3 linked regions of the Homo sapiens genome follow. The protein of the gene in region 1 purifies or fractionates together with the protein of each later gene. This does not show direct contact. Each region holds a gene or a part of one and is shown on either strand. Other genes may lie near its edges.

Region 1 (3,654 bases):
AAATAAATAAAAGTCAGGGATTCGGACAGATAAAACTGTACCTTGCCTCTTTATTCGCAAAGTAAATAAGCATGGAATTTATTTTTTGTTGTTGTTTTTATTTTTTGAGTCAGGGACTCACTTTGTTGCCCAGGCTGGGGTATAGTGGCATGAACACAGCTCACTGTAGCCTTGATCTCCCGGGCTCAAGCGATCCTCCTGCCTCAGCCCCCAAGTAGCTGGGACTACAGGCACACACCATCATGCCCAGCTAATTTTTGTATTTTTTGTAGAGATGGGGTTTCATTCACTATGTTGCCCAGGCTGGATTTTTTTTTTTTTTTTTTTTTTTTTTGAGACAAGATCTTGCTCTATCATCCAGCCTGGAATGCAGTGTCATGAACATAAGCTCACTGCAGCCTAGACCTCCTGGGCTCAAGTGATCCTCTCACCTCAGCCTACTGAGGAGCTGGAACTACAGAGGCACCAGACCCAGCTAACTTTGTGTAGAAACAGGGTTTTGCCATGTTGCCCAGGCTGTTCTCAAACTCCTGGGCTACAATCTACCTGCCTTGGCTTCCCAAAGTGCTGGCCACGGCCCCCAGCCTAACATTTTGAAAATTATTATTATTATTATTTTCTTGCTCTGTCACCCAGGCTGGAGTGCAGTGGTGCAATCTCAGCTCTCAGCTCACCTCCGTCTGCTCGGTTCAATTGATTCTCCTGCCTCAGCCTCCTGAGTAGCTGAGATTACAGGCATGCGCCACCATGCCTGGCTAATTTTTGTAGAAAATTATTATTTCTATGTTACATCATTTTAACAATGCAGTGGTTATCTTTGACCTAAAAACTAAAGTTTAAAAACCATTTTTTAAATTAAAGAATGCAATTAGTACATTCTTGTTGCTGACATGAAGATTACAGTGCATACCTAGCTCCTTTCATTATTTATAATTCAAATCTTTGTTGTACTTCATCTGCAATCATTCCAGAAATTGCAATGGAAGAAGTAGCAGCAGGAGAAGGTGCATTTCTCACATGAAGAATGCGATTTCCAATATCCCCAACTCCTGCATCAAATACAAAATCTTCTACCAGATTTCCATCTCTATCCAGGGCCTGGGCTCTTACTCCAGCTGGGCCCCTGCAAAAGTAAAAGATGGGAGTCAGCTGACTCAAAGACATAGGATACTTTACAAGTCAGCGTTTCCAAAAAGTCTTAAAGCAATAAAGTATTCTTCTAAATGCACAATTATATGGAAACCCAATGAGTTTATGTTTAACCAAAGGCTGTCAGTTGTAGCCTGTCAAACCTATATTGTTAGCTTAGAGCCTAAAACCTATTACGTAACAATAGTGTAACAAACGCTTATCAAAGAAATACATAAAAACAAGTAAGTTATTTATCAATGTCTGCTCTTTCCAAAGGTAGTAGGTAAATCCACACTTAATTAGAACAGGTATATTTTTATTTAAATTTATAGAATGAATTTATTATAAAAATCAATCAATGGCAACAATAAGCCTCATCTGAGTAATACAAATCAATGAAAGCAGAGGTTATGTGTCAGTTGCATTCCTGTATCCTATTCTACTTATTTTTGTGTTTTTAAAATTCACACAATTAAAATTTATGGAGAGAAATATTTGCAAATGGCAACAAGTTCTTGTTTTGCAGTTTGTTTTTAAGAGTTTACCCTTCAATATCAGGATCATCTTCAATTTCAAAAGATGATAGGAAAAGCATAAAAATAAATTTAGCAGCATGTTAATAAAATGAGAGTCTTTTTTTTTTTAATTGAGATAGTCTTGATCTGTTGCTCAGGTTGTGTACACAACCTCGCCTGGCTAATTAAAGAAAATTTTTTTTTGTAGAGACAAGGTTTCCCTACGTTGCCCAGGCTGGTCTCAAACTCCTGGCCTCAAGTGATCCTCCCACCTTAGCCTCCCAAAATGATGGGATTATAGGTGTGAACAACTGTAAAGACACTGATAATCTTTATTACTTAAAATTCTATTTTATAACATTTGAGCTCACAGATTTTTGTTGTTTTTTTAAACAGTTAAAATTTACAGATGAAATTTGAATCCAATGTTTTTGAACTACAAAAAAGCACCTCTTATGAAACTTGTCCAAGGAAGCCCAGTGTGAAAAATTCTATCTTATACACACCAGCAAGGCTCAAGAAATCAGGAAACAATATTAAACATTTTTTACTAATTCTGGGACAAATCAGATAAGTACTTGCAGAAGATACAAAGAACACTATGAAGGCACTGCCCTCTAAGACTTCAGCTGGCTGAAGAGAGATAATAGTAATAGCTATTATTTAGTAAGTGCTTACTCTGTGCTAGGAATTACCTCATTTAATCCTCAAAACAACTCTTAAGAGGCTGACACAGTTTATATTTAACAGCAAAGAAACACAGAGAGATTAAGTAACTTGCCTGAAATCACAGAGCTATACTATTCATTCGTAGAGAGGTAAATAAGAATTATAACAGTAAGAGTGAAAGGTTGTATGATAAAGATAAGTGATCTTCCCTATAGAATCCTGCAGGGAATCTGGACAAGAGATTTTTTAGCTGTAAGAATTTCCAAGTAAGAATCAGATATGGGAGTGAGTGGAGCAAGACGGTGGAAAAGAAGCCTACAAACATTGGTTCGGCTGCTAGAACACCAAATTTTAACTATCTGCACACAGAAAAGCACCGTCACAAGAACCAAAAATCAGGTGAGCAATCACAGTGGCTGGTTTTGACTTCATATCTTTGAAAGAGGCATTGAGGAGGGCAGAAAAGATGGTCTTGCATCGCCAATGCCACCCCTCCCTCACCCCCTAGCAGCAGCCAGCCATGTGGTGTGGAGACAGAACCTATGCACTTGGGAAAGGGAGGGTACAGTGGCTGGGGGCCTTTACACTGAACTCAGTGCTGCCCTGTCACAGTGGAGAATAAAGCTGGGCTGGGCTCAGCCAGCGCCAGCACATGGAGGGAGCATTTGGACCTGCCCCAGCTAGACAGGAAGCATCCATCCCAGTGGTCAGAACTTGAGTTTCCCTGCAAGCCTCACCACCGTGGGCTGAAAAGCTCTGGGGTCCTAGATAAACTTGAAATACAGTCTAGGGCACAAGGACTCCAACTCCTCAGCTACTAGCACTAGGCTGGGCTTATAGTCAGTGGACTAGGGTGGCATGTGATCTAGGGAGATACCAGCCGGCATAGCTAAAAGAGTGCTTGCATCATCCATCCCCCAAACAAAGGCAGCTGCAATAGAAGTGACTCCTTTCTTCTGCTTAAGGAGCAAAGAGCAAAGAGTAAAGAGGACCGTCTTACATCTTGGATTCCAGCTCAGCCACAGTAGGATATGGCACTGGGCAGAGTTGTGAGGCCCGCATTATAGGCCCTAGCTCCTGAACAACATTTCTAGACCCACCCCGGGCCAAAAGGGAACCTACTGCCTTGGAGGGAAAAACCCAGTCCTAGCAGGATACATTACCTGCTGACTAAAGAGCCCTTGGGCCCTGAATAACCAGCAGCGATACCCAAGGAGTGCGTCATGGGCCTTGGATGAGACTCTGAGATGTGCTGGCTTCAGGTGTGACCCAGCACATTCCCAGCTGTGGTGGCTACAGTGAAAGACTCCTTCTGTTTGAGAAAAGCAGAGATAAAAGT
Region 2 (4,379 bases), on another chromosome or scaffold:
CTGCTGCTCTGGGTGCTCTAGGTGCTTTTCCTGCTGTTCCAGGTGCTTTGGCTGTCCTACCTGCTGCTCTGGGAGCTCCAGCTGTGCCTCCTGCTTCTCCAGGTGCTTCACCTGGCCCTCTTGCTGCTCTGGGAGCTCCAGTTGCTTCTCCTCCTGCTCCAGGTTCTTTGGCTGCCCCACCTGCTGCTCTGGGACCTCCAACTGCCCCTGCTGCTGCTCCAGATGCTTCAGTTGTCCCTCCTGCTCCTCTAGGTGCTTCAGCTGCCCCACCTGCTGCTCCAGGTGCTCCACCTGCCTCTCCTGCTGCTCCAGCTGCCCCTCCTGCTGCACCAGATGCTTCAGCTGCCCCTCCTGCTGCACCAGGTGCTTCAGCTGCCCCTCCTCCTCCTCCAGGTGCTTTGGCTGCCCCTGCTGCTTCTCTAGCTGCTTCAGCTGCAGCACCTGCTGCTCTGGGAGCCCCAGCTGCCCTTCCTGGTGCTCCAGGTGCTCCAGCTGCCCCTCCTGCTGCTCCAGGTGCTTCAGCTGCCCCTCCTGCTCCTCCAGCTGCTCCAGTTGCCCCTCCTGCTGCTCCAGATGCTTAGGCTGCCCCTCCTGCTGCTCCAGGTGCTTCAGCTGCCCCATCTGCTGCTCTGGGAGCTCTGGCTGCTTCTCCTGCTGATCCAGGTGCTTCAGCTGCCCCTCCTGCTGTTCCAGGTACTTCAGCTGCCCCATCTGCTCCTCTGGGACCTCCAGCTGCCCCTCCTGGTGCTCCAGGTGCTTCAGCTGTCCCTCCTGCTGCTCAGAGAGCTCCAGCTGCCCCTCCTGCTGCTCAGAGAGCTCCAGCTGCCCCTCCTGCTGCTGTGGGAGCTCCAGCTGCCCCTCCTGCTGCTCTGGGAGCTCCAGCTGCCCCTCCTGCTGCTCTGGGAGCTCCAGCTGCCCCTCCTGCTGCTCTGGGAGCTCCAGCTGCCCCTCCTGCTGCTCTGGGAGCTCCAGCTGCCCCTCCTGCTGCTCTGGGAGCTCCAGCTGCCCCTCCTGCTGCTCCGGGTGCTTCAGCTGTCCCTCCTGCTGCTCTAGGTGCTTCAGGTGCCCCTCCTGCTGCTCTGGGAGCTCCAACAGTTGCTCTTTCTTCATTCCCAGTTGCTCATCTCTCTTGACTAGCTCTTGATCCAGTTGCTGGTCTAAGAGCTTCTTCTCTTCTTCCAGCTGTTTGTTTAGCTGCTGATCCCTTTGTGTTTTCTCCTGCTTAAGCTGCTGCTCTGGGTTTTCTGCTTTCTGATATTCCTCATGCTGTTCCCAGTGCTGTTGCTGCAGCTCCTGCTCCTGTGGCTCCTTCTGCTGTTGCTCACATTCTTGCTCAGGCAGTCCCTTTACAGCAGTCATGTGCTTTTCCTCTTGCTTTGATGGGACCTCCACTGGGAGCTCGACAGGCACCTTCTGGCATGGGGGAGGCAGTGGAGTTGGCTGTTTCATTTGCTCCTGATGGGTATTGACTGGAGGAGGAACAGTCTTGAGGAGCTCCTGACTGAGGGCAGGGGAGAGGGTCACTGGCAGTGTGTGTTGCTGGGACATCTTAGAAGCTACTGTCAACCTGAAAGACAGAAGAGGTCTGATGCACAGGCTGAAGGCAAAGGAAATAGATGAAACCTTGGGAATCTGCAGAAGTATCTGGTTTTTTAGCATCCCCTCTTCCCTTGGGCAGGGTACTGTTCTACCACCTCTGGACTATCATTTCCCAAAAGCAGCAGAGAGAGAAGGGTGGAAATGTGGAGGGGCAGAGAAAGGTCCTCCTAGGAGCCTCCTTGTTCCCAGGTGAGAGCCAACAAGGAGATCTGTCTGCAGGGCTGTTCTGCAAGGGTGGGTCAGGTGCCAGCTCACTGTCTGCTCTTGTCTAGTCCTTGTGTCCACCCTCATCGCTTCACTGACCAAGGAGCAGAGATGCGTTCTGGGATTATGTCACAGTGAGGAGTAAGGCCTTAGGGAATGAAATGTCTCTTGGAGAACACCAAGTCCTAGAAAACCAATAGGCCGTGCCAGAGAGGACCTAAGAGGTCATGGTGTGACCTCCAGACTGGAGCCACAGGACATGCTCTAGGCCTGAATCTCCCATTGGAATGCTGTGTGTTTCTGGGCATGTCACTTAGTCTCCTGGGATTTGGTTTTCCCCCCTGTAAAGCCAGCAGGTTGGCCTATTCAACCCCAGGGCTGCTTTCTCTCCTGACCTTCTGAGGTTTAGCTGCAGTCCTTGTGTCTGGGGTGGGGCTGCGGGAGCTGGAAGGTTGCTGAGAGTTGGAGGTTGTTCTTCCAAGTCTTATACTTCTAAGTTGAGTTTTCCTGTCCCAGCTCTGCCTAGGTTTCTCCAAATAGAAAGGTTTCCCCATTCTGCCATCCCTCTGTGCAGCATAGCCAAAAGGTAGAAGCTCTTCCCTGAACCTCTCCCTCCATAAAGAAGGCAAAATGATGGTCTGTCAAAACCCAAGAGGTTTAGGAAAGAAGTTGAATGCTATTCCCCTCCTCCCTTCCATAATTCTCTCTCACACACAAATCCAAAAATATGGTCACAAGAAAAGATGGGACATAGGATGATTACTCTCTGTTCTGCACTTCTGTGCCAAGGCACTTTTCTCTCAGTACTCTGACTCGAGTCCCCCTAGAATGAAAGTCCAGCTGAATCCAGCCCCAGAGTAATGCCCACCCCCACCCAGGCTGCCCACCCCCACCACATCGTATGCTGTTGGAGGTCCCGAGTCCCAACCCTGGTTCTACCATCCGACACTTACCAGACTCACAGTAAGGCTGAGGCAGAGGCTTTGGTGGAGTGCTGAGCTGAGCAGGAGTCAGGGCACTCTTTATATCATTCTGCAGCCTGGCCTCCCTCCAGGTTGAAGGTGATGGACAGGTTTCACCACTCTAGTTGGTCAACTTCCTCTAACCCCTTCCTGACTCACCACAGGCATCTTAAGCAGCAAACCCTTTAGGGCCCCATTTCCCAGGGACACACAGCTCCTGCCTGGCCAGAGGATTCTGGTAGCTCAACTATTCCTGTGATGCTTTTCTGACCTAGGCACAGGGAGCTGAGTGAGGCATCCTACTGTTTTGTGACCTTAGTCAAACTTCTGCTCTGAATCTCAATTTTTCCACTTTCAAAATGAGTTTGTTCTCATTATTAGGCCAAAAGATTCACTTTCAAGGGCATGAAATGGAAAGTTATGTGTCTTTCGGGGATGTCCAGGCTGGGTTATATGTTTGAAGATAGAGTCACTTCCCATGAAGGGGTGGTATTTCTGGGGTGTTCTCTTGGGCCACAAGCCCTTCCTCTCTCAGAATATATTTTTTAACTCCATCCTATGTGGAAATAAACTCTGTCTTTGGTGGAGGGAGTTTGACTTTAGGCCAAGTAGAGTCAAGTAGAAGGCTTCTAGGAGTCCTCTGCTGCTGCCACTTGCTGCCCAGCCTCTATGCCCGAGGCTGCAGTTAGAGAAGTTCTCAGGAATGCCATGCTCATAAGAACTCCAAAGCACGGCCCACTCTAGGCAAGGAAACAAGATTGAATCTACACAATATAAAAATAAGTATTGCTTTTTATAATGACAAACCAAACTACTTTCTTAAGTACTTTTTTAAATGCATGAAGGTATAAAGATCAGAATCAAATCATCCATTTCCTGTTGTAAATCATACTCTAGAAATAGCTTAAGAAATCTTTCAGAGTGGGGATTTGAGCACATCTCTCCCCCGTGCCAACAGTGCACCAGCACACTTGAAATAACATTCAAACTCACTGCCGTGGTTTAAAAGACCCTGGGTACCTGGCTTCTGCCTTCTTCTGGGGCCCCAATTCATGTCAATCTCTCCCTGAGAGGTATATTCTTACCTCACTGAGGGCCTTCGGTTCCTGAGATGAGCCCAGAGCTCTCCACCTGGGGGCTTGGCACCTGCTCTCCTTCTGCCCACCGGCCCCTCCCCAGGTCTCTGGTTCTTTTATGCCTTTCAGCTTCAGTGTCAATGTTGGGGTCTGTCAGAGATCCTTCTCTGTGTACCATATCTAAAGGATTGGTACTTAATTTCACTTATAACAATCTAGAGTAATTTATTTGCATTTGTTCACTTGCTTATTGTCTATCTTTCCCACTGGAAAATAAGCTAAGAGCAGCGTATACCTGGTATGTTTTCCACTATACCCCTAGAACCTATCAAAACTACTGCATATAATATGTGCTCTACAAGTATTCATTGAAGAACAGTGAATTTTACGACCCGAAAATAATGACTATTAAACATTTCAGTGTTGATCAATGTTTATATGTGTGTGTCTGTATGTGTGTGTAAAAACCAAACTGATTTATTTCTTCCCTTTCTTTTTAATGGTTGGCTAATAACTTATTATATGGACATCATTCATT
Region 3 (2,403 bases), on another chromosome or scaffold:
GACGAGTTAATGGGTGCAGCACACCAGCATGGCACATGTATACATATGTAACTAACCTGCACATTGTGCACATGTACCCTAAAGCTTAAAGTATTATAATAATAATAATAAAAACAAACAAACAAACAAAAACTAAGCTTTCAGTTTGTGTCAGGCCCTATGCTCAAATATTTGTAATATGAAGGTGAGTCATCATTCCTCATTTAGAATTTTTCATCATTTTGAGGCAACTCGGTCATAAGCTTTTACCTTGTTTAAACTTGGTATCTTTGGAAAAATGTCCGGCAGTAGAAGGAAGAGTTGTAGATGCAAGTTCTTACCTTCTGCAGACCATCGATTTCATTTGGCAGCAGCACAATCATGCTTAGATCTTTGCCTTTGTATGGTATTTCCAGGACCTTGGCCTGTACATCCTCCAGCAAGGCAAAATTAAAGGAATTGTATTGCCTCATCATCTGTACAGATTTGTATGTATTCTGCAATAAATCAATGTGTCCAACAAATAACACGTGAAACACAAGACAAAAAAGATAATATTATTGAGATAGCAACACATCCTTCTTCTTCTAAGAAATAACCCAGGAATTCCATGAGTTAGAAACAATAGTTTTTCAGGTATTCCTAACTAAATAAAGTTATAAGAGTAAAACAACAAAATAACAGACATGAACAATTTTTATTTTTTACTTATCATGTTACATTCCATCAGAAATGTTTAACATTCCATGTATTAACATATTACACTATATAAATAAAATATAGACAATACCTTGTTTGGCCAAAATTTTTCCTCTTTAGTGTTTTCTTTTTTAAATTTATTCTCCCACTGCCCTTTGAAATAGATTGCGTTCACAAGAACCAGTGTCGTATCATTGCCAATAGTCCCATCAGGAAATAGGTTTTTAATTTTTTCTGCAAGGGAAAGAATAAAAGAGTCTTTTACACAAGCTACAAATGGCTTGTCTGGAAGATGCTTTGCAAATGTTCGTGACTGATCGTTAATTATTGACCCAAATCCCTGCTTGAGACTCACTGACTTTGATCTTTGAATTGTTAGACTCACTGACCAGTGGTTCACCAGATGCAGCTTTCTTCAAGGCTCCAGTCGTATAAAGTTACCCTTGATGGAGACATCACTTCTTGTGATAGAGAAGGAGTTCACGTTCTCTGTGTATGAATGTCTCCAATCATCTGATTTGGAATACTGATAAACTGATTTTGTCTACTCTTCCAACATGTGTCTTTCCTTTCTCCCTCCCTCCTCTTCCTACTTTTATTTTTTTTTAACTACGGGGTCCCCATTCAGAGGAAGGAGGCCCTGATTGCATTTTAGGATGAGTGACTTGAGCTCTGTAATATGAAACGCATGTCCTGTGCTGTCAGACACTACTTCCGGGGGTATCTTCCTATTCACTCTCATGTTGAGTTGCTGTAAGTTTGGCCTGTAATGAGAGGTGGGAGGTAAGAAAGATGTCTGTAGAATGGAGACTTTGTCAAGCTCTTTGCCCTTGATGGGGAAGAGAGCTGTGATAATCCCTGCAGAACACATTGGCTACAGATGTGATCCAGGCAGCTCCAGCTCAGAGACAAAAGGGTGATTTACCAGAGAGCTGCTTGTTTCCCAATTAGTAAAGGAGACGAGAGACGCTTTCTAATGTTTTCTATTAAATATTCATCATAAAAATTTGAGTCTGATTTAAAGTAAAGGATATGATCTCAAAATAGGCCTGAGCGGAGACAGGGGATCCACAAAGCTATTGTCATGCAGGGCCATAAGCAAATAATTCTCCAGATGTGTTTCCATCTAATTGGCTTCCTGTGATTTCCTCCTTGGCTCCCCTAGGCTCTCTTCATATTCATTTGGACAAATCCTTCATCTGGAGTGCCCTCTTCAGCCCTCCCTGCAAACCCATCTCAATCCCCACACCTGTTCCCCCATGCAGTGTCAAGCACAAGGCTCACTGGCATAGGTTTCTCAAAGGTGTTTCTATAATGGGTGGCTCTCCTACCATTCGTTTGACTTTCCACCCAGGAGTTAATCTTCTTTCGACTTTCTTCTGGAGCATTTGCAAAATCAGTAGATTCCACACTGGTCTGGTAAAATTTCTTGATGGCATCTAAATATTCCTTTGAGATATGAAGGAAGAAGTAGGAATTAGGAGTAATTTATGTAACTATATATTACCAAACTTACTTATTTGTAACAACAGTAAGCTGAATCCAGACCCTGAATAGATGCAGTATCTCCTGTCCATGGATATTTTTATACAGGTGTCATGTAGGCAATGCAAAAGGGGAATGTGGGCTGGCACAAGAAAGAGGTCACTGAAGGTCAATATCATCTTGGCAAAAGGCAGAAGCAGAAGAGGCTGTGGTTTGCAAACTGCAGAGCAGGCTTCCCTG

Evidence for each region.
Region 2: the proteins of L2HGDH (region 1) and IVL purify together in Homo sapiens (affinity purification with mass spectrometry; 3 studies listed by BioGRID and IntAct, with this or other methods). This does not show direct contact.
Region 3: the proteins of L2HGDH (region 1) and SERPINB4 purify together in Homo sapiens (affinity purification with mass spectrometry; one large-scale study listed by BioGRID and IntAct). This does not show direct contact.

The regions. Positions count from the first base shown.
Region 1 is NC_000014.9:50,246,131-50,249,784, forward strand, and holds part of L2HGDH (L-2-hydroxyglutarate dehydrogenase, mitochondrial isoform 1 precursor), read right to left. Parts: intron 1,124-3,654; coding exon 928-1,123; 3' UTR 1-927.
Region 2 is NC_000001.11:152,906,967-152,911,345, reverse strand, and holds the start of IVL (involucrin), read right to left. Parts: upstream 2,801-4,379; 5' UTR 2,757-2,800; intron 1,568-2,756; 5' UTR 1,549-1,567; coding exon 1-1,548. UniProt on the Homo sapiens protein: Part of the insoluble cornified cell envelope (CE) of stratified squamous epithelia.
Region 3 is NC_000018.10:63,638,865-63,641,267, forward strand, and holds part of SERPINB4 (serpin B4), read right to left. Parts: intron 2,128-2,403; coding exon 2,010-2,127; intron 913-2,009; coding exon 770-912; intron 477-769; coding exon 321-476; intron 1-320. UniProt on the Homo sapiens protein: May act as a protease inhibitor to modulate the host immune response against tumor cells.